4 linked regions of the Homo sapiens genome follow. The protein of the gene in region 3 purifies or fractionates together with the protein of the main gene of each other region. This does not show direct contact. Each region holds a gene or a part of one and is shown on either strand. Other genes may lie near its edges. The genes, in order: ABHD17B, VANGL2, SV2C and UFD1.

Region 1 (7,024 bases), on a different chromosome or scaffold from region 3:
TAGCCTATATTAAGGTATCTGTTTATTGTACACTAACCTGACTAATAATACACTGAAGTCTACCAAATTGTGATTTTTTTTTCAAGAAAAATGTTTAGGTATCTTGGTGACTAGAAAAGATTAATGCAATTTCTAGTTCCCCAAAATGTATGCTGCTATAATCAAAGAATAACTGACATAGTAAGAAAATTTTATTAAACAATTTATCATAACATTAAAACTTCTTTTTTTTTAAACAGAGTCTTACTCTGTCACTTGGGCTTGAGTGCAGTGGTGTGATCTCAGCTCACTGCAACCTCCGCCTCCCAGGTTCAAGTGATTCTCCTGCCTCAGCTTCCCGAATACCTGGGATTACAGGCACCCGCCACTGTGCCCGGCTAATTTTCGTATTTTTAGTAGAGACGGGGTTTCACCATCTTGGCCAGGCTGGTCTCGAATACCTGACCTCGTGATCTACCTGCCTTAGCCTCCCAAAGTGCTGTGATTACAGGCATGAGCCACTGCGCCCAGACATTTTTTTTTTGTATTTTTAGTAGAGATGGGGTTTCACCATGTTGGCCAGACTGGTCTCGAACTCCTGACCTTGTGATTCGCCTGCCTCAGCCTCCCAAAGTGCTAGGACTACAGGCGTGAGCCACCGCACCCAGCCTAAAAAATTTTTTTAAACTTGATATAATCTCTCCCAATTTTAGGAACACAGAATATAAAGTAAAATCTCAGTTTTACAGAATGAATACTTGAAAAATAATTCCAATAAGGTATCTTTAAGTTGTACTTCCCAAGAAGTAATCACATAAAATAATGCAAATCTTGGCTTAAGATTTTAATAGAAAGCAATCCAGCCTCATACTGTTAATGACAGATCAAGTGAATAATTAGCTATGTCAGTATTTTCTCTCATTTCCTTGAAAGGTTGCAGCTTTGAATAAACATTTTTTATATCACACTCCAATAAGAAAGCTTACAAAAACCAAACATTTGTCACTGGATTTAATTTTTTTTTTTTTTTAACTTTTTAAGAGATGAGGTCTGACGCTGTCACTCAGGCTGGAGTGCAGTGGCACGATCATAGCTCACTGCAGCCTCAAACTCCTGGCCTCAAGTGATTCCCCTGACTTTGTCTCCTAAGTAACTAGGACTATAGGCATGCACCATGGACTTCCAGCTAAGAATTTAAGTTAAAAAAAACATACATATATACGTGTATTAATGTAGACAAACAAACCTGAAACTGTCTTTAAAAACTTTGTTTTGCTATTATGTGAAATTTAAAATTGCTGTCTAAAATATTTATTCACAGGTATATAATAGTAAATATAACCTCTATATAGCAGTTATGTATAATAAAAACAGCTTTTATTCTATTCTTACACAAGATATTTTTAGCTAACCACCACGAGTATGAAAAATAAATTCCAACCACAATTTACCTTGTCCTAAGAGCAAGCCAAGCAGCTTCAATGTCTGCATAGAGGTTCTTCTCTGTGGGTTTCCCGGAACTGGCACCATATCCAGAATAATCATATGAGAATATATTACAATTAATCCGTGATCCTAGTCCTATGTAAAAGCTGCTCATTTGACCAAGATCAACAGCATTTCCATGTGAGAAGAGTAAAGTGTATTTCGCATTGGGTGAACAACGTACAAACATACAAGCAATTCTGTTGCCTTTACTGGTTCTAGTCATGAAACACTCAATAGCATCTTTTTCTCTAGAAGAATACTGCCAGTCTGCTCGTTCAGACAGATGTAAAGTCCAACGGCTTCCGCTTTCATCACACATCAGTGTGTAAGTTGGATCAGGTGGCAAAAACGCTAATTTTGAAGCAATCTTCCCTGGACAAGGTGGACAGCAGAAGAGGCAACATAGCTCACTAAATGAAAGATTATTCATGCTCTGAAAAAGAAAAGGAGATAGCAAATATTTTAATAACTGAATGTAGACTCATACAATAAAAAGTTAAAACACAGACATGGGTAAATTTTATTGGTGGTTAATGACTATTACTATTTTAGGTATGATTCCAAACAGATTTTTGGCTTCTTTTTTTTTTTTGAGACGGAGTTTCACTCTTGTTGCCCAGGCTGGAGTGCAATGGCGCAATCTCAGCTCATCATAACCTACGCCTCCCGGGTTCAAGTGGTTCTCCTGCCTCAGCCTCCTAAGTAGCTGGGATTACAGGCATGCGCCACCACACCCGGTTAATTTTGTATTTTTAGTAGAGATGGGGTTTCTCCATGTTGATCAGATTGGTCTCGAACTCCTGACCTCAGGTGATTCACCCACCTCGGCCTCCCAAAGTGCTGGGATTACAAGGAGTAAGCCACCACGCCCGGCCTTTGGCTTCTTTCTAGAAGTACTTTAAATCCTGGGGTGAGGCAAATATTCCTGACCAGCAGACAGACTCAAATCCTATATGACAGGTTTCAAATAGCAGTGATTATTATCTCATTTAACATAAATGTCAAAAATGATAAAGGTAATATTTGCCATTTCTTTACAAATAACCTGAAGGTATGAAATATCTTTAGTGTAGTCTGTAATTTCTATGTAACTCAGCAAAAGTTCTTAGAACCTCATGGAGAAGCTAGGAATTTAGCATAAAGTGAATACATACTAATAGCATTTATGAAGCTATTTGTCAGGCATTGTGCCAAGTGCTCTATGTGTGTTACTTGGTTTAATTCTCAGAACAACTGTGTAAGTTGTTGTGAGAAAGGAAACTTGCACAAGATGAGGCAGTGGTGGAGCCAGGATTTGACTCCAGGCTGTCACTACACTATGTTACTGGGCTACACTGCCTCACAGATTCAGAACACGCTCAGAAGACTATCACTTTGGTCACAGTGCCAGTGGCCCAAATAACCTATAGAACATTAAAGTGTATGTATGTATGCATGCATGTATGTATGTATGTAATTACTGCCCAAACTAAAAAGGCTATAATATAAAGTTTATTGTGGAAAAAAGGTAAAATCTACTAAAGGTAAACTTTTCTAAATGTTTGGAAGAGAAAGAGTACAAGGTTTAAAGTTAGGAAGCTGGGGTAAAATCCTAACTCTACCACTTACCGTTTGCCAGCTGTATGTCCTTGGGCAAACTATCTCTTTGACTCTCATTTTCTTCATAAGTAAACAAGGCCAATACCTACACTGAAGGACCTGGTTGTGAATATCAAATGTTGGTGTAGTGAAGGCCCATCATACAACATACGGTGAGTGATGGCCATATCATTGTCACACTTTAACTTAGGGACAAAAATAAAGTAATACTTGTTAGTTCTATCAGTATTTCCTTCTATCTTGTCCTTTTTCAAATTCCTGTCTCTTTTTAGCAAAATTAGGCCATTGCTTAGTTCCAGAGAAAAGGCATTTAAAACCAACACCTTACAGGTTTGGTGGCATCCAATTTTCTCCAAAAAGAAAAAAAAAAAATCTAAATATAAGAATAGGGGGAAAAAAGTACCCTATTACACCAAAAATGGGAAGAAAACAACTCAACAGAGTGACTAAATGGTTGAGAATATCTGGGGGAAAAAATGCCCTTTTCACTCAATACAGAATCAAATATATCCTATAATGCTCAGTATAAATGTGTTTATAAGAAGCAGCAGAAAAAAGCACAGGAAGAGAGGAACAAGGGTAGGTATAACATAAAAGACTTCAAAAGGTGAGGGAAGGGCAGAAAAACATCTTGGATATTAGGAAATGCTTTAATTGCTTCCTACCTTTATTTCTTTTTAGGCTTCAAAATACAGCCTGAATAAGTTAATGGCTTACTCTGGTTGGAACAAGAAATAGGACAGAAATAACAACTAAGTGTCATCTGCTAACTTTAACTGAGGGCTTCCTGAAGTGTTGTGCTGAGAATGATTCTAAGGCATACACAGGGCTTAGCCAGCAAAAGATGTGATAAATTAGTGATGTTTACTATAGACTCTGGCTACAAATTTACTATCCTGGTCAGGAGGATAAAGTGTCTGTTGAAGAAGATGAAAGGGAAGGAACTCAAAGGATCTGTTCCAGAGGAGGAAATGACCTGCAGAAAGATGATGAGGTACAAGGTATAATATCAGTGCTGTCTGTTTAATATCTGTCTATGGTTATTTGTCAACCCTGATTACCTCATATACCATTGACTGCTGAGCCACAATAGCCTTTTAAAAAGCTTAATAAGTAAATGGTACGTATCTAGACTATAGTCCTATAATTTATCTCTTAGCCAGAAACACTTTTGTTGTTGTTTTTCGAGACGAAGTCTCACTCTATCGCCCAGGCTGGAGTGCAGTGGTGCGATCTTGGCTCACTGCAACCTCCGCCTCCCACATTCAAGTGATTCTCCTGCCTCAGCCTCCCCAGTAGCTGGGATTACAGGCACACACCACCATGCCCAGCTAATTTTTGTATTTTTAGTAGAGATGGGGTTTCATGATGTTGGCCAGGCTAGTCTCGAACTCCTGACCTCAAATGATCTGCCTGCCTTGGCCTCCCAAACTGCTGGGATTACAGGCATGAGCCACCGCACCCAGCAGAAAAACTTTCATACACTATAATAAACTACTTTTGAAATAAAGCTGGCTGGTTGAACATATATAATGCTGTGAAGAAGTTTCTGGGGATGAACACCAAAGGAGAGAAGCAGAAAGGAGAAAAACTGCAGTGCCAGGGTCTAGTTTAATGACAACTTCACTTCCTTAATGCTGACAGAATGACTCCCCTCTTCCACTGCCCAAAAGCCAGATAACTGGGGCTTATTTAATGACAACAACTTGCAAATGATCACTTTCCTAATAAGAGGCCTGGTATAGGGCAGCAACACAGACCTACTTTCAAAAGTTAATTGAATACTTTTTAAGTCTGAAAAATTTCACAAAAACTATAAACAAAACAAATAAATCTAGGTTTTAGTATAGTGTGAGCAAGTTACTGAAGAAAAACATTTTATTCTGTAAAAAAAAAAAAAAATCACTGAAATAGCTTGTTAAACTTAGATAATTTCAAGTCCAACTTGTTCTTATAAAACTCATGCCAGACGCAGTGGATTGCTTGAGCAGTTAACAGTTGAAAAACACATCAGTGAGCTAAAAGATCAGGTTGAGTAATTTGCAAATATGGAATTTTTTTGTGGGAATTAAGAGACAGAAAACAACAAAATTTAATAGATAGAAATAGAAGTAGAAATATCACTATCCATACTATAGAAGTTCCAGGAGAAAATAAAGATAAGACTATTTAAGAATTTCTCAGAATTAAAGGGGGAAAAAAAGTCAGATTGAAACACCTCAAAGTGTACCAAAAAACAACAAACTACTTAAAAATGAACAAGATCAGATGAACATATGACTTTCTAATATAAACACTGGAAGCCAAAAGACAATGGAGAGATAATTTTAAGCTAAAGATGAAATCAAACTTTTAACCTAGAATTGTACATAGAACAAAAATACAGTTTTAATATAAGGATAAAGGTATCTGGGCTGGGTGTGGTGGCTCACTCCTGTAATCCCAGCACTTTGGGAGGCCAAGATGGGAGGACCACTTAAGCAACATAGGAAAACATTGTCTCTATCAAAAAAAACAAAGAGAGAGAGAGATCTGCAGGCCCACAAAAACTCGTAAGACTTAACCAAATCAAGTCTCTCTTTGAAAAACTCCAGCAAGGAGGGAAGGAGATAAATCCAAGGGAAGGCCAGGCACAGTGGCTCACACCTATAATCCCAACACTTTGGGAGGCCGAGGTAGGAGGATTGCTTGAGCCCAGGAATTGAAAACCAGCCTGAGCACCATGGCAAAACTCCATCTCTATAAAAAATACAAAAATTAGCTGGGCATGGTAGTGTGTGCCTGTAATCTCAGCCACTGGCGTGGCTGGAGTGGGAGGACTGCTGGAGCATGGGAGGTCAAGGCTACAGCGAGCTGTGATAGAGCCACTACACTCCAGCCTGGGCTACAGAGTGAGAGCCTGTCTCAACAATAACAACAAAACAAACAAAAACCCCCCAAATCCCAAGGGACTTCTATGAGATATCTGAGATATGAGAAATAAAGGAGAATAGTTAATACAATGTTTTTTGTACAAGTGAGCAATGGGAGCAAGGAGGGTGAAGACAACAAAGTATATCCCTAAAAATCCAGAACAAAAACTTTGGTGAATATGAATACGAAGAGGATTGACAAAAGAGAGACTACTTAAGAGGTAAAAATGTGCTGGGGTACCTGACTTGTTGAGGATGCTACTGATACTGATAAGCTTAAGACATAGAAGAAAAGCCTGAATATAAGCATGACTCTTAATAAGTCAGATATAATCATCAGAAAAATGATAGTGCAGGGCACATCTAAAGGAGTTACAATTATCCATTACAAAAGTCTAGCTTTAAATATTAGTGTCCAACTTAAGAAGAGAGTAAACAAAAAGAAAACAAGAAAAAGAAAATTAAGAGCAGATATCAACAAAACAAAGAACAAAAAGCAATGGAGAACCAACAGCTGATTTCAGAAAAGGCTTCCACTACTACTAATAGCAAATAGCATTAACTGAACACTTACAAAGTGTCAGGCACTATTCTAAACACTTTTCACATATTAACTAATCCTTTCAACAATCCTCTGCTTTAGGGACTATTATTACACCCATTTTGCAATTGAGAAAACAGAGGCATAGAATAGTTACATAAGTTGCCTAATGTCACAAATCTGATCAATGGAACTGATACATGACAGAATGACTCTGTAACCCAAACTCATAACTACTGTTTTGTGGAAAGGGTACTCAGACAAGACTGATCACAAGAAAGAGATAAGCAAAATAAACGAAATAATGTACTAAAGGAAAAAGGACTTTGAGCTACAGACATAGTTTCTAGAAATGAAAGAATATCATGTGTCAATAAATAACCTAGACAAAACTCACGCACTTCTTGAGTAATATAAAAGGACAAAATTGGCACAAAGGCTAGAATATGCAAATAACCATCAGAACTTCAAAGGGAAATCAAAGACCACCTTCACTTAAAATACT
Region 2 (7,024 bases), on a different chromosome or scaffold from region 3:
GAGCAGGACAGTTTTTTATCTGCTCATCTGGTTTCCAGGTCCTTCCAGTTAATGGGGAGGGAACTTGACTAACAGAAGCTTTGGCAGGGAAAAGGAAGAGATCTGATCCCCTCTGAGTTTTAGGGAACTCCAGTCTTCTCCTTCCCTCAAGTGTTCATCACATTGTGAGGCCAGAGAAAGGAGTCAGAGTTGGTTGGAATTAGTACTTAACAGTGGTGTGATCTGGGCAAGTAATAAACCCCATTCCCCAGCCTCTTAGGTGTCTTAAGGCACATCCTCCAAGCCTAGACTGAGCCCTTCCACAAGGAATCCCTGGTCCCCCACCAAGTGGCTTTCTTCCCTGGTTTGCTTTTAAATTCTGGCTTTGCCACTGTCTAATTCCGTGACATCAGACAAAACTGGTAACTTTTTGAAGCCTCACCTGTAAAATGGAATTAATAATAGGCCCTACTTCTTGGGGTTATGAGGATTAAATGAAATAATAGAGAAAGCACGTTGCACAGTTCCTGGCACATAGTAAATGTTAGCTGGATGGTTCGGATTCTGAGGGATAATCATCATTAAGGGAGAGAGGTCGGAGTCGGGATAGGAGAACTAGGCTTTGGTTCTGATCTTCCTTTGGCCGACCACATTAGGCACTCTCTCCTATCTGCCAGGCACAGTGTGAAGCACAGGGGATGGAGGGGCAAATAAGATGTTTTCCCAGGGGAGACATGTGAAAACATGTTGATTCACTGCAGCCCAGTGAGTGCTGTGTGGAGGTGTGTTCAGGAGGCCACTGGAGCATAGAGGAAGAGTGCTTGGCCCTGGGGTGAGGTGCCAGGGAAGGTTCCTGCAGGAGATGCCCTGTTAGCTGGATTTTAAAAAAATTAAGGTGAAATTCACATAATAGGAAATAAACCATTTTAAAGTGAACAGTGGCATTTAGTACATTCACAGTGCTGTGCAACAACCACCTCTGTCTAGTCCCCAAACATTTGCACCATCCCGAAACAAAACCCATACCCATTACACAATTGTCGCCATTTCCCCTTACCCCAGCCCCTGGCAACCACCAATTTGCATCCTGTCTCTATGGATGTACCTATTCTGGATATTTCATACAAATGGAATGATAGAATGCATGACCTTTTGAATCTGGCTTCCTTCGCTTAACATAATGTTTTCCAGGTTAATCCACACGGTAGCATGTAGCATGTATTAGTACTTCATTCCCTTTTATAGCTGAATATTATTCCCTTGTGTGGACAGACTTTACCTGGTTAAAGGATGAGTTAGGCCAACAGGAAGGGTCTTAGGATGGCACTCCTGGTGGAGGCTGAGCGTGAGCAAGAAGGCACACAGGGTATTTGGTAGTCCTGTACCTTGCAGTATGAAGTGGGGATTTGGCCTCAGTTTCTCTGTCTATAAAACAAAGTTAATCATCCCTTTCCTGCTTGTGCTATGGGCTTGGTAGAGTTGGAGGTATTAGGGGAGAAGAGAGGCTAGGGTATTATTGCCTCTTCTCAGGGTCTGGGCTGGGGATGGGACTTTTAAAACTTGCTCTTTCCTCCTCTTTCCTGGGCAGCTCACTCCTGTATGCATCAACCCTCATCCTTGTGGGGAGCCATCTCCCTGTTCACTTGACATCAGCTTCCCCTCTCTCTGAATTGACCTGAAATTTTCCCTTTTACCTTCCACAGGTGGGTAACCCTGTGCATGATGAGATTTTGGCAGCAGAGGTGAAGGAAAGGCCTGGGACTAAGTCCTACTCACATTCTACCCTACGGCGGCCCTCCCCTTCTTTATCCTGTCTCTTGGTGATGTGGCTTGGGCAGCCCTCTCTCACCTTCTCTGTTGTAGTCTGGATAGAACTGTGGTGGGCCAGGGAGAATGTTTGCATTCCTTGTCTCTACCCTGCTTGGTACAGAGTAGGAGGCAGAGGCCCTTTATGGTGGGGCCCTTTGGAAATGAGGTTTTGCTGTGCTTTGTCGGATGCCCCTGGCAAGATTGGTAATTATAGACATAACAGCTGGGAACTGGTTTGAGAGAAGCAGGCTTGGAATCAGCAGACCTGAGGATATCCTGGTAATCAGGGTGGGGCAGGGAGAGGGGAGAGTGGGATGAAGCTGGGGGCTGGGTAGGGTGGGAGGCTTGGGGCCTCCTTCCCCTGCCGCTCCACACACAGCTGGGCTTAGAGCCTAGAGGAGAGTGGGAGGTGATTGGAACCCAGGTCTGCTTTACTGTAAGTGAGGAAGGAGGAAGGAGAGGAGGAAAGGTGGGGGATCCAAGGGCCTCTGAAGAAAGAAGCAGAGAGGAGGAAGAGGCATGTTGGTTGCTCTCTCAGGCAGTACCTGGATGTGGTCTAATTTAGAACAGGGACAACCCTGCACCTAGAGGTGGTTCCATCTTATTTTGGGGTGTTTCTCCTTACAGTGAGGTTATGGGAGCAGGAAGTGGAGGGGATTCGCTGTGGACCCACTAAAGGAGAAAAGGTGGGAACTAACATTTTTTTAAGCATCTATTGTGTGCCAGAATCTGTAATATTCTGCATACATTATTTTGCTGAAAACTCTTAACCTTCTGAAGTAGGCACTATTATTGCCATTTTATAGATAAGGAAACTGAAGTTTGGAAAAGGGGAGCGACTCACCTGAGATTACATAGCTCGTAAAAGGCTGTGCCAGGTCTGACTTCAGTGCTCTTCCTTTTCCCAAAGTCTCTTCACCTTCCCCTACTGTCATTCCAGTTCGGTCTGATTGCTCATTATTGCCTTTAATCTTGCACTTGAGTAATTCCCCTGTTTTCTGAAAAGCAAACATGAGTCCAGTGTCAGCCTGAGGAGTAGAGAAGCCTACCCTTGAGGGTGGGAGTCAGAGAACGATCTCATCTCCAGGAGGAGCACCTTGGTGTCATAAGCCTGGGGCGGGGCCAGCATCTGGGCAGAAACCTCTCCTGGGGTGGGTCTCTTTCTCCTTGCTGGGCCATGATTTTGGATGGGGGTTGGGGTAAAGGAGTGACTGTAGGCTCCGGCCACCATGGCCCGTGGGGTCTTGTTTGTGAATGGGAGGAGCCTGGTCCTTATTGTCTGTAGGGTTTTCTCACAGCCCCTAACAATGTCCTTCAGACTCCTGTTTTCACCAGAGTGTTCTTGGCTCCCTCAGCCTGGTCAGAGAGAGAGGGTGTGTTTGTTTGTGGGTCTAGGGAGGGGGTTCTGGTTTTTTTTTTTTTGAAACCGTTTCGCTCGTTGACTAGGCTGGAGTGCAATGGCGCGATCTTGGCTCACTACAACCTCTGCCTCCCTGGTTCGAGTGATTCTCCTGCCTCAGCCTCCCGAATAGCTGGGATTACAGGCATGCACCACCATGCCTGGCTAATTTTGCATTTTTTGGAGAGGCGGGGTTTCACCATGTTGGTCAGGCTGGTCTGGAACTCCTGACCTCAGGTGATCTACCTGCCTCGGCCTCCCTAAGTGCTGGGATCACAGGCGTGAGCCACCACGCCCGGCCCAGGGGGTCTGGTTTTTTAGGGTAAGTAGGGTTTAGATAGGAACAGGTGCTGAGCCCGAAGTGTGAATGCAGTCACTTAAAAAACAACAGACTGTGAACAAAAACATGCATTTTGACACCTGCTTTACTTCAGGAATGGAGGTGGCAGATATAAGGGATGGGAGAGTTGAGAATTTTCAGCAAAGAGTGAGAATCTCAGGTAGGGGGGTGGTCGCGATGGTGGAGGCCGGCTGGTACTTGGGCCTTTCAGCTGGATCTGGTTTTCTAGATAAGAACTGGCCAAGTTGCCAGATCCAAGGCATTGGGCTGAGGCAACAGGAGGTTCTCAGGATGGGGATACCCAGCCCTGCCACCCTCATCCCCAGTCACACTGCATCTCACACCCTGAGGCCCACTCTACCACTTTCCTACAATCCAGCCTTTGCTGACAGTGCCCCCATATGTTCTTCCCTCACACTCCATCCTCACAGCTCAACTCTCCCCATCCACAGCAAGCCCGAGGTTGGCTAACTTCCCCTTCCCAACTAGCTGCTTTTCACATCTTTGCACCCCAGGGCAGGGGCTGGGTGAGCAGGCTTTGAAGGTCTTTTGGGGCCAGGGACAGTTGGGGCCTACCTCGAGCAGCAGGCTAGGAAGAGGGGGGCATTTGTTTTTGGAGTGTACAGGACACTCACTGACTTACGGGTCAGCACAACTCACCCACCTCCCATTGTCCACCCTCTCCCTGAAGACACCTCAAGCTGCCTGCTTTCCTTCTTGGTTCTTCCACAGCTCACCTGGTGGGCAGGTACGGGCCAGTTCTCTGCCTAGGCCAAGGGAGGAAGCAGCTCAAAGCCTGGTGGTGGAAATTGTGGGGCCTGCCTGTTGGTAAAAATTAAATGGAGAATCCAGAAGCCCTGGTTGCCTTCCCACCAGCTTAGTGTCCCGTCTTCCCGCCGGCCCCCACCTGGGACAGATGCCAGGGGCATTACTCACCTTTTCTCCTGCAGCCTTTCCACCCCCAGTGTTCTCTTCAAGACGGACTAGGAATGGGTCTGGGGAAGGCTAGGGAATGGGGTGCTATGGGACATGAATGTGCACACGTGTCTGCTTTTGTGTGCTGTGTTGGGGGGCAGGTACCTTCTGGGAGCTGGGATGGGGGTGGGGGTGCCAGAGAGACAGCGGAGCAGGTCTCTACAGAACCTGCCTAGCCAGGGTGGGTGGAGCTGGGTGGGGCAGGCAGGAGTGATTCCAGGTTTCAGAGGGGGAACAGAGTGTGGGTGTGTATGCGTATGGGTGGGTATTTTGGTGTGTTTGCGGATTTAGAGGTCCTCGGCCTCACCCCCAGCCTTAGACTGAGGGAAATTCAGGACGTAGGTGGAGAGGGGCTTGGCTCTGGCTTCCCCAACTGCTTTTGAGGTAGAATGCAAGCTCAGGTATCCTGGCCAGGAGCCCAGTCTGTGGGCCCTTCCCCTGCGGTGCACCCTGCACTGGGGTCTGCTGGTGAGAAGCTGCTCTGGAAGCCTAGATGCCTGGATGACACAAGCATGGCCAGGATCCCACCCCTCCTCTGCCACTCAGCCCAGTGAGGAGAAGGATCCTGCCCCCACCCTGGGGCTATGAGGATGGTGAGCTCATCTCTGGGGCTGTCCTGGGAGAATGCCTGGTTAACAGGGCGGGGGTGGGGCACCTGGTGCCAGCTCCTGGGCTCCCTGCTCTGCCCTTCCCACCCCTCAGCCCACCAAGATACAGCTGTTCTCTCTGGCCTCCTGGGCAGCACTGTCACCCAAGGACAGCCTTTTTCAGGGTTTAGGAATGAGGGTCAGGGCAAAATCTTCATCCTATTTTTGGTCCAGGGCTGGAGCTGGTCCTTGCCCACTCTGTACCTTAGTCTTTTCGGTGATAGCAAAAGCCCAGCCTCTCTGGATGGGTGGCTTGCCCATAGCCCAAGGCTGGATGGGGATGAAGGAACATCAAGGTTCTTAGTTGTGGTAGATGGATGGGTGCAGGAACCACCCCTTTTGGGGATAGAGGCTCTTTGGTTCTGGCTGTCTTAGCTGAGGCCTGTCTAGTCTCTGTCTCTTTGTCCCTGGTGAGAAGAGGGGGCAGGACGGAGTCAGCAAATCCTCTCCTGTCGTGGCCCTCTTGCAGTTGTGGCTACTCAAGGAACCAGTGTCCAGAGCAGTCTCATGGAGAAACCTGGTCTCACTCCAAGAGGAGCACTCCTCAAAGTCAGTGTTACTACGATTTTCCAACAATTAGAGGAGGCCAGAAATGGGCTGCCGTAGAAGTAGTGGCCATGGGCTAGTCACCTTCTCTCTCTGGGTCCCACTTTTTTATTTGTAAAATTTGAGGTTGTCCCTCTAAGGCCCCTTTCAGCTTGGTGCTGGGAACTGCTGAGAAGAGGGTGGTTCAGCCAGCTGTGTCCTCCTGAAGGGAAAAGGGAAAGGGAAAGGGAAAGGGGAAGGGGTGTCAGGGGAATGATATGGGCATAGTCAGAGGTTCAGGTACCTTCCTTCCGTCTGTGGAAGCTGTGTTGGATGTCTGCATTTTCAACCCACACCCATCAACTTCAGCCCCCCACCAGGGCCTGACAGCGCTGCCTGGGTTGAGCACATCTGTGAAACTCAGGGGAGGTGTGTGACAAGGAGGAAAACCAAGCAAGGCTCTGAAGTGCGACAGCTGTGTCTCGAGTCTCTGCTCTGCCTTGCACTGGCCTTAGGCCTTGGTGAGGTACTCTGACTGTACTCTGAGCTAGCACGGAGAGCTAGCTCCTGGGATCCTGGGCTGGGAGGTTGGACCCTGGGCTTAGTTCTTGCCACCTCCATGGCTGAAGGTGGGCTTCCAGCACTTTGAGTGGAACTTATATTGATATCCTTGGACCTTGGCACTATGGATGGTGATGATTAGGGAGCCAGGCAGCTAGGGGGTGCCCACATGCATACCCCTGCCCACGGGCTGCAGTGGGAAAGGGGTGCAAGGCATATGCAGGAAGACCCAGGCTCCTGAGTAGGAATCGGAGACCTTTAGTGGGCAGGGGCCCACAGACGACTCTTCAGGCAGGTTCTGAAGCAGTAATCACACCCATTTCCCTGTGTTCAGGCAGAACCACCCTTCCCTAGTCCCTGACTACGGAGAGAAAAATGGTCCTATCAGAGATCTCTGCCCCTGTCTGAGGAGAACTTGAGGCTTCTTGTCCTCTTTCCCATCGTCTTCCCGTCTGGCTGGAAGTCTTTTAAAAATCAAACCCAAGCACCCTTCTCAGCTGCTTCCAGCCCTGTCCTCGGTGGAGATGAGGAACACTAGGTGCCCTTTTTAGGTACATGTTTTGCTCTGTCCCTGCCCCCCTTTTCTTCCGTGGCCTACTCACCCTGGTTTCCACAGCTCTTTCTCCCAGCCCCGTCTGCATCTATGCTCTGTCTCATTACCTCACCCCAGGCCTAAAGTAGCCGGGACTGGGCTGCGGGGTGGGCCCGGGCTAGAGCAGTGGCAGGAGGTGGCGTCTGGAGCTGCCTGCGTCTGGTCATCGGCCCCCAGCACGCGCCACACATGGGGGT
Region 3 (7,475 bases):
GGGCTGGTTAAGGAGCCATTTTGACAAATCACATGCTTTTATTCATACAATATGTCATCAAGTTTGCTTAAGAATAAGAGATAACACTCCTAATTATAGGAAATGGGTTTTCTGGTACTTGTCGTCACGTGATATATTGCACATTATGATGCCTTTGCCGTAATCTCCTGGAGACTGGGAACTGGATCCTATTATTTGAAGCATTTCCACACTTAAGGAATATGATAGGGTTAATAATGAATAGGAGTTTTACTACAAGCTGTTAGGCCAGTCTGCTGCTCAGATCAGAGAAGCTACTTTCACTGTCATTGGGTCATGAAAAATAAAGCTGATTTCTCCACTACATGAACAAAACACTCAGATGTGATCCAGAGCTTCTTTTTTTCCTTCTCCAGACAGTCAGTAGCTAATGGCATTGGATTACATATTAGACTGTTAGGAAAAGTCTGCTGTCTGCATTTGCTCACATTGAGGGCCAAATTTCATTAAAAAAACAATGCTGGGAAAAGTCTCTAGAATTTTTTAAAAGAAAATTCTGTGTGTGTGTGTGTGTGTGTGTGTGTGTGTGTAGGGGCTTTGTTTGCTAATATTTTCCATTCATGGAAAATTTGTATTTCCAAAGCCAAAGCTCTCTGAGATTATCTCTTTTGTCTTCAAAACAACCCTGTAAGGTACATAAGAGCTAGTATAAGCTATTTTTCACAATTCTCAGAGGTGGAAGATGAACCCAAGAGGGTGAGTAACCTGCCCAAGGTGACATAACACAATATTTGGGGAAATGGTGACTAGCATCTGTGTCTCTGGGTTCCTTGATAATTGCTTTTCTTCCTCCCTCCCTTCCTTTCTTTCTTTTTTCCCAACCCCGTCCCCTTTCATTCATTTTGCCTACATACTGCAGATTTGGGCTCCTTCAGTAAAGCCAGTAGAAAAACTTTGTCACTGGGTTTCCAGAAAGTGGTCTTTAAAAAAAAGAATAAAATGGATCGTGGATTTGATTTATTATTTTCCACCAGAGAATGCGTTATCAGTAGTGTTTTTTAACGCGTATTTTTATGCCATGAAAGAGGAATGCGGCATATTGTTTTGTAAGACATTCTTAAACCTCACTTAGAGGCCAGGCCTCCTGCCAAAAATCCTGCAGAATGGTGGCGCAACGGGTTGGCACTACAGAACCTCACGAACCTCAACACCTAGGCGTTCACATGAAAACTTCCCACGAGCACGAGGCCTTTCGGAACTTGCCATGGAAAATGAGTGAACGCCTGAGAGATTAATGCCACATTCTTCAGAATTAAGGATAAGAATTAAACGGAAGCTACCGCGCTAGCAGTCAGCTAAGTATGAAGGGATTAGGTTCAGCGGGAGAGGAGACCATCACGGCATCCCGGTCTCATCTCCTTAAGGCTCTCATGAGCCTTAAAAGACGCCTCATCTCCTCGGTCCCCCGGGGAGCGCCCGGTAGCTGCGGCTCCTTCCCGGCACTGCGGCGCACTGCGGAGCCGCCTGCCCGCCAGCCCAGGCCGTGCGGGGCTTTCCTCGCCGCCCCGCGCCGCCGCAGTCCTCCCGCCCCCCTCTGCCCCGCCGGGTCGCCGCTCTCCGCGCCAGGCGCGCCGCGGGGCATCCATCAACCCAGAGCTTTTGACGCACACACGCGCGCTCCCAGACGGAGACTCCGTCGCCTGCCCCCGCCCGCCACCCCCGCCCGCCCCTCGCGGGTCTGCATTTGCATCACTCGCACACGTAGAAGGTGACGCGAGCGCCCCCAGCTCAGGCCGTCCAGGCGGCACCTCTAGCCCCCGTGGCTCAGCCCCTCCCCCCGCCCCCGCGCGCCGCCTAAGGTCCCCGCACGCCCACAGATCTGCTCCCGATTGTTCATCTGCCGTGGGGTGCTGGCTGCCCCAAGCCAAGTTCATCCCCGTATTCCGCAGTCCCCGTGGGCCCAGCCCGGGGCGCTCCCCGCGACGCTCTGGAGAAAAGTCTTCCCAGTTCTAGAACCCAGGCGGAAGGGGAAAAGCCCACTAAGAGAAAGGGTCAGAGGGTCGGCTGATGGCTTTTGCTGCCCTCATCGCCATCTAAGATTACCTCGGTAGCTTATTTACTGCGATTGGTCCCTCTCCCCTCTGAGCTTCACAGCCTCGGGTCTGCTTCGCCTGGCCTGGCGCACAGCAGGCGCCCAAAAGGTTTTTGCTGAATGAAGGCGTTGTAACGTAGGAAGTGCAGGCGCTGACAAAGAGCCTCAGCCCCGCGGGCTCCCCTGCTCTCCAGCCCTCTCTTGCTCTCTCTTAGACGCCAGACAGGCGCTTCGGGAATGTATGTGGGAGAGTTTGAAAATTCATGGTGTTTCTTTCAGGCTCTCTCAGCACTTACTGCGGCTACCTCTGCTCTCCCGCCACCTGCACGTCTGCAGAGGGATCCCCGCCGAAAAGTTGAGCCTAAGGCAGCTATGAAGGTATAGGTCCAGGTACCCAGCCCGGGGCTCTAGGCTGCTAGATTTGAATCTGCCTATCCCTGCCGGTCAAACCACACAAGCAAAAAAGAGCGTGGCGGTCGCTGCAGATGCGGCCCCTGCATCCCCGCTGCTGCCCACCCACCTCCTCTGGGAATCCCAGATAAAGTGCGACCCAGTCCCCAGACCTACCCTAGCGAACCCTGGGGTCACTGCATCTATTTTACCCCTACTTTCCTGGTCCCTCTCCAACAAAGGCGCCTACAAAGCAGCGGGCACCTGCAGCCGCTTCCCCGGGGGCAGGCGGGGCAAAGTTGCGCTTCCGAAAGGCTGCAAAAACTTCCCCAGGCTGCAGCGCCCGGCCACCAGTCGGGAAGAGAAATCCAGCAGCGGGGGAAAGTCTCCCCGCGGATGCCCGCTTCACCTCCCCCACTCACCGCTCCAGCCGTCGGACACCCTTGCCCTGAGTGGTGTCAGCACTGCAGCCGCCTCAGTGCGGGCGCCGCTCCGGCTCGCTTCCCCGGGCTGCCTCCGTCTGCCACTCTCGCCTGCAGCGCGCGGAGTGGTGACTCCTCTGAGCGTGTCAGCGGCGAGAGGAGGGGCGGGAAAGTGGCTCCCGGCTTGCACGCTGCGGTCCTCCTCCTCTCCTCCGCCTGCCTCCTCCCCCTGGTGCTGCAGTGCCGGGCGGCGGCGTGGCGAGAGTACCAGCGGTGCGCAGGGAGTCACGGCGCGCGGGGGAGGCGGGACCCGCGCGCCACTCGCGGTGCTCCGGCAAGTCGCGGTGCTGAGGCGCTGCTGCGGTGTGGGACTGGGGCAGGGGGCGGGGAAGGAGAGCCACCTCCAAGTGGTAGGTACTTCTGGAGAAGTCAGGGCTCTGAGTTTGTAGCAGGTGAAGGAGAGGGGCGGCAGTCCTTAATTAGTCACCAACTGTGACTGTGCGTTGCGCACTTGGCGGCGCCCCGGGTCAGGTCCAGCGTGAGACGCGAGGGAGTTCTGACTGCTGGACTCTGTTAGCACCGGACAAAAAGAGGGTTTGTATTCTATTTCCGGGCCTGGGACTGACTTGTTCACTTCGACTTGGCTTCCAGGGAGCAACCAGGCAGAGCTAGGTTGCCTACTTCCCCCAGCCCCCACCCCGACGCTGGAAGACAAGTCCAGAGGAAACTTGGGCACAGCAAGAGCAAACAGAAGAAAACTTCGCTGGGTTAAGTCTACTGTCTCCCCAATGCTACATAGGGCCAGACAGCTGGGCTCACAGGCAGATATTGAAAGTGGCCCCTTAGAGGGGAAACAACCAAATATGAGGGGGGGGGGGTGGAGAGAGAGATAGAGAGAGAGAGAGGAGGAGGAGGAAGAAAGAAAGAAAGAAAGAAAAAGAGAAAGAAAGAAAGGAGGAGGAGGGAGAAAGAGAGAGGAGAGAAGAGAGAGAGAGAGGGAGAGAGAGAGAGAATTTTGCTTGTGTTGTTAGAAACAAACATTTCTCCCCTTGGCGTGCAGGAGAGAGAATTTTGCTTGTGTTGTCAGAAACAAACATTTCTCCCCTTGGCGTGCAGGAGACCCCAACTCGAGCTTCACTGTTCCAAAGCGGTGGGCCAGGCGGCTGGAGAGAAACTCGCTCCCGTGAGGCCACACCCAGGCCTGGCGCACCCACCCCGCGGCAGCAGTGGAGGGCGTCGCCCTCCCGGGCCTTCCGACGCAGACCCTGCCATCCGGATGCTGCGGGAAGTAGGGCATCCTCACGTCCCTGACTCCTCCGGCTCCGCGCGCTCACGGAACCCAAGTGGAGTGGGAAGCGGTCACACAGGCGTGTGCCGTCCCCGAAATCGTTGCTCCTGTGGTGGTGACCCAAAGCGAGACAAAGCGCCGCGCCAATACGGGCTGCAGTGATTGGAACTCAAACACACACATCTCTCCGCGAATGTGTTCCATCCGTGTAAATATGCCTGGGTGATTGAATGGATGGCTGAATGAACGCTGTGTGGATAGAAATATAAATGTTACATGTATAATACAGGCGCCGGGGAAGGAGAGCTGTCAGGCACCCCCAGGCTGGAGCCTCCTGCCCAGAGGAGCCGGTGGAGACAGGCGGTTCGCCCAGGGCGGTGTTGTTAGCTTGGGCTTTCCAGTTCGATTTGTGCCACTATGCAGGATACTGTGAAGAGAAGAAAATGGAGACAACTCTTGGCCTCTCATTTTCCCTCCTCTCTGGTTCAGACACTCTGGCACTAAAAGTTATGATTCTCATGTGCTGTTGAACCTACACTTCCTTGCTGGTCTGTCTTGTTCCGGTGAGAGGCTTTGCAGTCTGTGACCATGGTGCTATGAGATGGTCAGGCAATATGAAAATTAGTGAACGTGCTCATTTTCATTTCGTGGATTCTTCTTAGTAAAATAATTATTTAAATAGTTAAATAATTTAAATAGTTAAATAATTTAAATAATTATTTAGGCTAAAATTAATGTGCTGCTACTATGACAAGGAAGTGCCTATGAATCCAGCATTGGAAATACAATTGTGAAATTAAAAAATAAATCCTATCTGGATTCCCCGCATGTTATTTATAAAAATTTGAGCTTCCAACTGCAAAATGTGCTGGCAATTCACTGAGTTCTCAAACGGTTACCTTTTTGAGAACCTCCCCTAAACTGTTGCAGAATAATGGATTGTTTCTCCAAGTGATGGAAGTTCAGAAAACCATGAAACAAACTTTAAACGTGATCAACGTTCTTTATGCTATGCTGTATCTTCCTTAAATTATTCTCCTATCTTGTCCGTGGAAGATATTTTTTTAAAGTGGGTTGATTTTTCTACTTCTGGATTTTCGTGTCTTGATGCATTTGAAGGTAACAGCTCCTTTAGGAAAATCCCTGATTGTGATTTTGCCTGAAACATCCCATTTAAGACCAGGTTGCACTGGAAAAGGCTATTTTAACGTTGTGTCTTTGGAGGACATGAAACATTGTGTCATGATGATGTTGTGCCCTGGTTCCTGGACTTGCCCTCTAAAGCAGTTCTGGTTCTAGGGTCCTGCCTGGCACACACCTTGGCCCCAGGCCCCTTGGATCCAGCACTCAGACTAGTTTTATTCATGCCTTCATTATAATGAAATGTTTTCTCTCTTCTGAAAACACTTGTCTTGTAGAAGCGGATGGAGTGAAAAGGGGTATACCCTCCATCCCCACAGAATCCCAGTACTCTAAAGTCATTGCTCTCCTACACCTCAGGACTTTTGTTCCTCAATGCAGGGTGTCGTCTTGTGATGCTAAAAAACAAGCTGTGAAAGACACCTAATGAGCATGAGAGGTCTGTTTTCGCATCAGCAAAGTGGTTTTCATAAAAATAATTCACACTAAGTACAGATGCTATAGTGGTTATATTTTATAATATACACAAGAAGCACAGTGCCTAGTACACAATGGGTATAGAATAAATGTCAGTTGCTCTTCCTCTTTTAGTAGTCAGGGCAAGGTTTTCCAAAGCCTGCGCTTTGGAGAACTGGTTTTGTAAGATGCTCTGGAAAGTCAGAGTTACACCTGGCTTCCACAGCAGATGTCTGAAGACAGCCCCATACTCTTGGACCAAGTCCACACAGCTCTCCACTTCTCCTCACTATCATCAGGAGTCTATAGCAAAGTGCAGACACCTACTCTTCTTACCCCAACACTCAGCTTCCACAACACTCAAAACTATTTTTTGTCTCTTTTGTAATTTTAATCGAAGTATTACTATTCATTTTTTTTAAACTCTGTCTTATAAGCACCACATTTTAATATCTAAGTCAATATTGGGTGAAAGAAACACCACCAAGAACTTCCCTCCAGAACAAAACAATGATGTTCATTCCTCCAAACATCCAAATTGAAAGTCTATCACAACCAAAACAAAAAAACAAAGCCCACGGAGAAATAAAAAGTAACAAAAATCACATTCTAGGGTGTTAGTGCATTTGGCAGTCTTTGCTGTGCTGTTGAACCATCCTTCAGCTGGCTTTCAAAAAAAAAAACACCCTAAGCTCATCAAAATATACATTTGCCATTTGCTTTTTAAAATTAAAAATAATAATTAAAAAGAAAACTTCAAGGAATTCACAATCAATTGCCTGACTTGTTTCAATGTCATGTACAGCATATGGAAGTGAAAAAGGCCATTTGCAGCACCTGTGATTAAGGGATATTCATCTTCAGGGTTTAGCTTTCTTCCAGACAGCGTAAAATACCCACAATTCGAAGTTTGAAGGGACATAGACGATCTCCTTTGAGAATTCCACAAGGCAATACAGGCACCCAAGCTGTTCTTCATAGAGTGGCAGGGCTTCTGTCAGATTGACACAGTTTGCCTGTGTAAAATATTTCCCATCCTGTTTCAATACATTCATTCATGGGTCAAAAATCAGTCTGAGAAACTCCCACATGGAATCTTGTTCCAGAGATGTGGAGATTGGAACAGCTGTCAAATCGTTAGTCACACAATCCAATTCTCTCCCTTCTTTGGTGTGCCTCTTCAGTATTGGAATGCAGTCTTCTATCAGAGCCTGATAGCAGCCTCCTTTAAGATTGTCTACAACATCACCACATGTTTTTTGCATATATTTCTTACATCCATCAATCACCATTTGGTCAATCTCTACCATAGTGACCATCTTTGATTTTAGTTTGACTATTTCTCATAATATGCCCCCATCTCAGCCTCTGAGAAGCAGTACCTCTTTGCCAGTGAAATCTGCTTTGCTGCTGCCCGTGATGGCCCAGGTATATGCCAAATCACTCTGCCGAATCAACATCCCTACTAAGGATGAGAATATTTCCAAATTGCTTCTAGTGTAGAATTGTAATGTTCCAATAAGGTGAATCTTCATTGTACACCACTTCATCTATGTCATATTCAACCAGGCGCCCATCGGTGGTGGACCAATGTCTGTTGATGGCCCCTCTTCAAACTACAGGTGGTAATCGCTTCACCAGCCCAGTACTGTCTTGACTCAATTCTTTCATTCTTTTTTCTACATTGTTTGAAAGGCTGTCGATCTCT
Region 4 (7,024 bases), on a different chromosome or scaffold from region 3:
ATTTTTTGTCGAGATGGGGTTTTGCCATGTTGCCCAGTCTGGTCTCAAACTCCTGGACTTAAGTGATCCACCCACCTCAGCCTCCCAAATTGCTGGGATTACAGGTGTGAGCTACCACACCCAGCTTCAGCTATCTTTTTTATTAACTTTATTGAATTGTAAACAGAGAACACTTTAATTCTAAACAACTCTCTCAAGAGAGTAAGTCTAGGCCAGGCGCGGTGGCTCACATCTATAATCCCAGCACTTTGGGAGGCTGAGGCTGATGGCTCACCTGAGGTCAGGAGTTCGAGACCAGCCTGGCCAACATGGTGAAACCTCGTCTCTACTAAAAATACAAAAGTAGCCGCAAGTGGTGGCACATGCCTGTAGTCCCAGCTACTCAGGTGGCTGAGATGAGACAGGAGAATTGCTCGAACCCAGGAGGTGGTAGCTGCAGTGAGCCAAGATCGCGCCACTGCACTCCAGCCAGGGTGAGACAAAGAGAGACTCTCTCAAAAAAAAAGAGAGTAAGTCTAAAGACTTACTCTTTTCCAACATTTTAGATGTCATTTTTTAAGCTTCATACATTAAACATTATTACTGCTTTATATGGCAACATTTACCCTGGATTCATATTTGCCAATTTATTTATTCCCTATTCCTTCTTGCTTTCCTTCTAGGATAATGCTTATTCCTAAAGTACATGCTTTTAAAATTCCATTGGTAAATAACCTCTCTCAGATTTGGTTCATCTGAAAATATTTTCACTTTGCCCTTATTCTTTAAGGAAGGTTTTGATGATAGTTACTTGATACTGGCTGTAACTGTTGCTATTCAAAGACCTGCTACTTGCTGTTCTTCTGAAGGTACTGTGTTTTCTCCCTGCTTACCTCTCTGTATTTGGTATTTTCTACCTGTAGCTTATTCTGTTTGTTATACATTATAAATTTCCTGTCATGATGGGCTGACCACCAATTCTAAATCAATTTCAGTTACCATCTCTTCAGATTATTGCAATTCCTCCATTCTTTCCTACTGGGATTGCAATGGGCATGTTTGACTTTCTCAGTGTCTTCAACATCTCAAGCTCTCATATGTTCCATCCCCTTGCTCCTCTGTGTGAAATTCTGTTATTTCTTCAGATTCATCTTTCATTAACTCTTTTATAGCTGTTGTTTAACATTGTTTTTCAAATCTTTCTGGTTATTTTTGATAGCCTTTTGTTGCTCGCTATTATAATTCCATTTTAAAAAATATCTTTGAACATTTTATATCTAATTATTTTACATTTGTATCTAGAAATTCTAATGCTGATTTCCTTAGGGATCTAATTTTTATTGTCTCTGCTTTGGTGTAGTTTAATTATGTGTTCTTTGCTTGTTCAATTGACAGCAATCCCAAAGACGTAACTAAACTGGAGTGCTTTTTCCAGAGAGGATCTGTTTATTTCTCCTGAGACAATGACAACACCCACCTCTGTGTATATTTTACTGCTTTTAAGGGTTCCCGTTCAATCCTGATCTCTGACTCAGATCTCCCACTAGAGCACTGATATGGCCATCTGCCCTCAGGGCAACCCAGCTTAGAGTGTTTAAAATTCTCTATAAGCACAACAGTACATTAATCAGAAGGGCCCATTAGAGGATCTAGTTTTCCCTACTTCTAAAAGTGGAAGTTCAAACCTGTGTTTCAATTTTACATACACTCTTATATAATGTACCCTCCCTTAGAGTGCAAAGTATCAGTACTATCCTTTATCATCAGTTTAGGAGTTATATGTAGTATTACTACCTTAACATTAAAAACAATAACATTAAACTGCCTGTAATTAATTATAAAAGCTTAGAGTATTCAGTTAAGGTAAACGATACCTAAAATGTTCTCCACAAAGCTAAAGGGAACAAGATTATTTCTTAGTTTATTAAAAGGAAAAAAGAAAGTGTGATTCGAAACCCAAGGAACTGAAAAATAAGGTCAGATGCCTCAAATATGAGGAAACTGCCAGAGAATAAGCTGGATCCCTGCACTGACACCAAGGGAGTAACTGGCTAAACCACAGGCAGCTGTGACACAGCTGTGACGGCCCAGTCCCCGAAGGGACCAGAGAGTGCTGTGAAGGAGCTAAGTGCTAGCTTCAGGGAAAGCCCAGCCAAGCCAGGCTGTGGTCACTCCCGAACACTAAGGCTAGCCCTGGCAACAGCTCTGTGGGAGGGTCAATTGTCAACAGTCACAGTGAACAGGGGCACCCATATTACTGTGCTCCATGCCTGTGGTGGGACAGCCTGATGGCAGGATTGCCAACTATTACATCCTCCTGCAGGCATATTCCCATAGGTAATAGGAAAGTGAATGCTTTCTTGAATTTTGGACTAAGTCCTGTCATTTCACTTTACAGTTAAATTGTCTAGATCCAGACACCTAAACAGCATAAAATCAGGGATGAAAACAGAGGCATTCAGACCTGAGAGACTTGTGTCAGAAAGGTCAAGCCTAGAGAAGCTGCTAAGTGAAAACGGAAGCTGAAGAAAACAGGAGGTGGAGGAGGATGTGGGCTCCCAGGAGGAGAGGTGAGCCTAGGAGGTGTTGCCCTAAGGCAGAGCCAGGCTTTGCTTCTCAGATGCCACACAGCACTTGGCCCCACTGAAGGGCCTGTCAGCTTCTGTGGGGCAGGTATCCCAAGGACAAGGACCCAGCAGGGTTGTTATTGTGTCTCCACAGCCCTGCAAAGGGCTTAGCTCAGATTAGAGGTGCAGTGGGGACCTTTCAAACCAAGACAGAACCAGCAGCCTTGCCACCAAGGTACACAGAGGTATGACTAATAAGTCTATCAATGTTCCCCTGTAAATGCAATCTATCCTCAAAACAGAGTTACCAAATGAATTAGGGCTCTAAATATGAACCCGGGAAAACTTAATAACCAAACAGTAGGCAGTAATTAGGTGATAAGATCCAGGCATACGCTGCTTAAAAAGAAGCCCCATTCAAACATTAGAATGGACACTGCAGGTGGCTCTTGTCAGGAATGACCTGCATGAACTGGGCTCACCTTTTCATTATAGTTGATGGCAATCACATCCCCGGTGGTCAGACAGGCAAAGTTCCTAAGTGCGTTTTCTAATCTGCAGACACATTCTGTCAAGGCAACATGGCAAGATGGATACCTTAATCTGAAACAAGTTTCCATGTTAGATGATTACTGGTAGGTAGAGACTGTACCATGATGGTACTTGAAACACGAAGCTTTTAATACAATAAAGTACTACTTGGCAATAAAGAAGGATGGAACTCCTAATATGCAATAATATGGATGAAATGCCAAGCTGGGGTAACAAATGCCAAGCTGGGGGAAGGGGAAATAACCAACCACAAAAGGGCAGTGAGATTCCATCCACATGGAACCCTGAGAAAGACAGATCTATGAGGATGGGAGGTAGCTGAGAGGTTTCTGGGCCAGGGGATCAGGTGGGGACTGACAGGAAAGGACCTTTTGGGGACATGGAAATGTTCTGATTACATGGGTGTATACATTTTCAAACTGGCTGAACTGTGTGCATTTTATTGTATACAAATTATACCATGGGATTTTAAAAAATCCTGTGGGAGTACTAAAGAACAAAAAAGATTTAATGAGTCAGATAGGTCCTCTCAAAAGTTCCTCAAAATCAAAGATGCTTTCATTTATACTTCTGTTGTTTCTATCTTTTGAGCTGATAACTTTAGTTAATAGAAATTAAAATAAAGAAACCAGCAAATACTTTTTATAACAGTAAAACTGTAGAACCCAAATGCCCACACAAGGAAATGTCTATTCATGTGGAATATTTTGCCATGTCTTCCTCATCAATTTGCTGAAGGACTTTACATAAAAAGGTCACATGAAATGTGGCTCCAGAGCCTGCCACTGTGAGTCCAACTTGAGGGTGAAAGGGTGAGGCTATCTAGGTTCACCTCGCTTGGTCAAACAGCTTTCCAGAACCAGAGCAACTTTGTGAAAAGCGCCTTATGTGGTGGATGCTTTCTTTGCTCCCAAATATGAAGTGCCACGGTACGAAGTGCCCTTCCCTCCACTCCTCTAGTGACCCTGCCAGGGCATCTTCTCTGACTTCCACTGCAGCAGCTGGAGGAGCAGAGCCAGAGCCCTCAGGCTGAGAACACGAGGCCTCTGCAGGCAGGGCGGGCTCCCCATATGGCCTCTGCGTACTCTGGCACCTGCTGCAGCACCAGCTTCCCACTTTCTCTGCTCGGTGCCAAGACTGCTTTCATCCAGACCTCAGCCAGACCAGAAAACACCAGGCTCTCAACTGATGGAAGTGACGCCCTTTCTCCACACACTAACAAGTTAATTGTGCTGACAAAACAGCATCTGAGATCAACCTGATAAGTCTGCATTGGGGCAGGGCGCGGTGGCTCATGCACGTAATCCCAGCACTTTGGGAGGCTGAGGCAGGTGGAGCACCTGAGGTCAGGAGTTCGAGACCAGCTTAGGCAACATGGTGAAACTCCGTCTCTACTAAAAATACAAAAATTAGCCGGGTGTGGTGGTGCACACCTGTAATCCCAGCTACTCAGGAGGCTGAGGCAGGAGAATCACTTGAATCTGGGAGGCAGAGTTTGCAGTGAGCTGAGACCGTGCCACTGCACTCCAACCTGAGCAGCAGAGTGAGACTCCGTCTCAAAAAAAAGTCTGCATTGCAACACATGTAAAAACCCTGAGAAAATGGGCATGGCCCATTCCTGGTCACTGACAGCCAAACAAGCATGTCTAGGTCAGAGCTCTGAAGGACAAGTTAACTAGCTCTTCCCATAGGACATCCCCCTGCCTGTGGGACAGGAGGCTCAACAAGGCCATCGTGTCCAGAACATAGGCAGCAAAGAATATACATGGCCCATATGCATCCAGAGCACACCCAGCAGTGCCTTGCTCCTAAGAAAACATGCGGAGAGAGCGCTACTGGGAAAGGAGGCAGCTTTTCTTAACTTCCTATCTGTCTGTGTTGTTTGACTGTTTGTTTTTTTTTTCAAGTATGCATTAAAAAAAAATAAAAAAAAAGAAGTAGAATGGAGTGGCCACTCTTATGCCATGATCGTAACAGGAAAAATCAGGGCCATGGAGCTAGAGATCTTGATTGGTGCACACAGCACCGTCCCGTACCTGCACTGCCTACTTCCTGATGCTGTCAACACATACACCTGGCTTAAGTTCAGAGGTGAACAAAAAGAATCCACTAGAACCTGATACCTTTGCTTTCTGCTTGGTGACATAGAAACTGCAGTCATTGCTACCTATTGGCCTGGAGTGAATCAGCTCTCAGGCTGGCATGCAGTGAGGTTGACGGGCCAGTGCACAGCTGGGCGGAGGTACTAGGGAGCCACAGAAGGGGCTGGAGCTGAAGGCAGATAAGCTGCTCCCTCCTTCCACTGGACATACTGTGCATCCTGGCTTTGTGCCAGGTGACACAGACCAACTGAAAGAAGGGCTTCATTGTGGTCTCCATGAAGTGTCTGGAAAGTGACAGAGGTGGCCCAGACAGCACCCAGTGCACTTGGCCAGGGCCACGCAGATGTGCTAGCTGAACCCCATTATTCTCAAATCACAACTTGAATCACAAATGTGTGATCCCCAAAGCAGGCACAGATTCAATACAGTACATGATGTTTAACAACCGCCAGCACACTCTCCTTTGTCTAGAAGAACTCCGCTTATTTGAAAAAGATACACGGCTTTGGGGTTGGTGATGTCCAGGAAGTCAGGGCTCTGAGGTTGGAATTTGGAGTAGGTGGCCACTTGAAGGTTGACGCTCTCCACCTGGACCAGGCCGCCTTCTTCCAAGAGTAAGTTCTGCATCATCTGAAAGGAAGAAGAGGCTACATGAGACTCCTAGAGATGAAGCAGCCTCCACAACCACTGCTCCCTATACACTGGGCAGGCCCGTCTTACTTGGGTCCTTGGAAGAGGAACCTGAGCCAAGATAAGTAATTCGTGATACTATGTCAGGAAGGAGGGAAAAATCAAGTGATGTGGAAGGAAGAAGGCCAATAAAGGGGTGCTACTGAAGCTGTATAGCTCACAGTGTGAACGCATCTCTGCAGGGCTGCCCGGATTACTCACTAGCTCCAGGCTTCCCAGGGGCAGAGCATTTTCCTGGAATAGTCACTCACTGTACTTCCAAGCTGTCCCACAAGCAAATTATAAGGCCCTGCGTCAAGTAGGGCTGCACCTGAGGTAGGACAAAAGCAGCACAAGGCAAGGCTGACCTGGCAATGGAATGGCCCACCACAGCTGAGGCTGCAAGATGGTGACAGACCCCAGAGGTCTCTGCTAAGGAGGTTATAAAAATCTGACAAAGCCTCCACATGTCTCTATTAAACAACCCAGCCAGGTAGACGACGGCTGAGAAGTGAGACGGAAAGAGATAAACAATGCCCATGAGTACTGGGTGTGCAGGGAGTCCAGACTCAGGTCAGAAGCTCTATGTCTCTTGCAATGAAATTTTGCTTGTCTTATTTGAAACCGTCTTAAAAGGGGTGTCAGACATATACATCAGTAGAAAGAGCCGTAGAAGAGAGCTCCCACGCACCGAGCCCTGACAGTTGGACAGTGCTCACGTCGTGGCTCAGTCCATCGATCAGCACTACCTCACACCCAGTCCCAAGCCACATTAGATGCCCTGAAGCAAATCCCAGGTATCACATCCCTTCAAGAATGTTTCATCGGGAGTGGCAGTGAGAAGGTGACTTTAACAGCCAAGGGAAAAGGGGGCTGAGGGCTGTGTCACAAATGAGAGGGAGCTCATGAGGAGGGAGAGGCATGCTGAGGCCGAGGCTGTGCCTGGGAAGCCGTGCCTAGGCCATGAGTGAAGCCTGAGTGGTGGGCCCTATGGATAGGCTTGCAGAGGACCCCATGCACTCACGCTGACAGCTGCTTGTCAGGCTAGTAAGGGCAGAAATAGAGGGTGGTCACTCTACCAAATGCCACAGGCAGGCACAGAAGGATGCAGAGGTGACTGGCTTTGGTAACGGGGGTCTGGCATCCCCAGGAGTG

What was found.
Region 1: the proteins of SV2C (region 3) and ABHD17B purify together in Homo sapiens (affinity purification with mass spectrometry; 2 studies listed by BioGRID and IntAct, with this or other methods). This does not show direct contact.
Region 2: the proteins of SV2C (region 3) and VANGL2 purify together in Homo sapiens (affinity purification with mass spectrometry; 2 studies listed by BioGRID and IntAct, with this or other methods). This does not show direct contact.
Region 4: the proteins of SV2C (region 3) and UFD1 purify together in Homo sapiens (affinity purification with mass spectrometry; 2 studies listed by BioGRID and IntAct, with this or other methods). This does not show direct contact.

What each region holds. Positions count from the first base shown.
Region 1 is NC_000009.12:71,873,184-71,880,207, forward strand, and holds part of ABHD17B (alpha/beta hydrolase domain-containing protein 17B), read right to left. Parts: intron 1,901-7,024; 5' UTR 1,898-1,900; coding exon 1,431-1,897; intron 1-1,430. UniProt on the Homo sapiens protein: Hydrolyzes fatty acids from S-acylated cysteine residues in proteins. Has depalmitoylating activity towards DLG4/PSD95. Has depalmitoylating activity towards GAP43. Has depalmitoylating activity towards MAP6. Has depalmitoylating activity towards NRAS.
Region 2 is NC_000001.11:160,403,540-160,410,563, forward strand, and holds part of VANGL2 (vang-like protein 2), read left to right. Parts: intron 1-364; exon of another isoform or gene 365-853; intron 854-2,588; exon of another isoform or gene 2,589-2,786; intron 2,787-4,264; exon of another isoform or gene 4,265-4,349; intron 4,350-4,463; exon of another isoform or gene 4,464-4,716; intron 4,717-4,916; exon of another isoform or gene 4,917-5,095; intron 5,096-7,024. UniProt on the Homo sapiens protein: Involved in the control of early morphogenesis and patterning of both axial midline structures and the development of neural plate. Plays a role in the regulation of planar cell polarity, particularly in the orientation of stereociliary bundles in the cochlea.
Region 3 is NC_000005.10:76,078,921-76,086,395, reverse strand, and holds the start of SV2C (synaptic vesicle glycoprotein 2C), read right to left. Parts: upstream 3,014-7,475; 5' UTR 2,884-3,013; intron 2,181-2,883; exon of another isoform or gene 2,083-2,180; intron 1-2,082. UniProt on the Homo sapiens protein: Plays a role in the control of regulated secretion in neural and endocrine cells, enhancing selectively low-frequency neurotransmission.
Region 4 is NC_000022.11:19,462,174-19,469,197, forward strand, and holds part of UFD1 (ubiquitin recognition factor in ER-associated degradation protein 1), read right to left. Parts: intron 5,831-7,024; coding exon 5,700-5,830; intron 3,102-5,699; coding exon 3,029-3,101; intron 1-3,028. UniProt on the Homo sapiens protein: Essential component of the ubiquitin-dependent proteolytic pathway which degrades ubiquitin fusion proteins.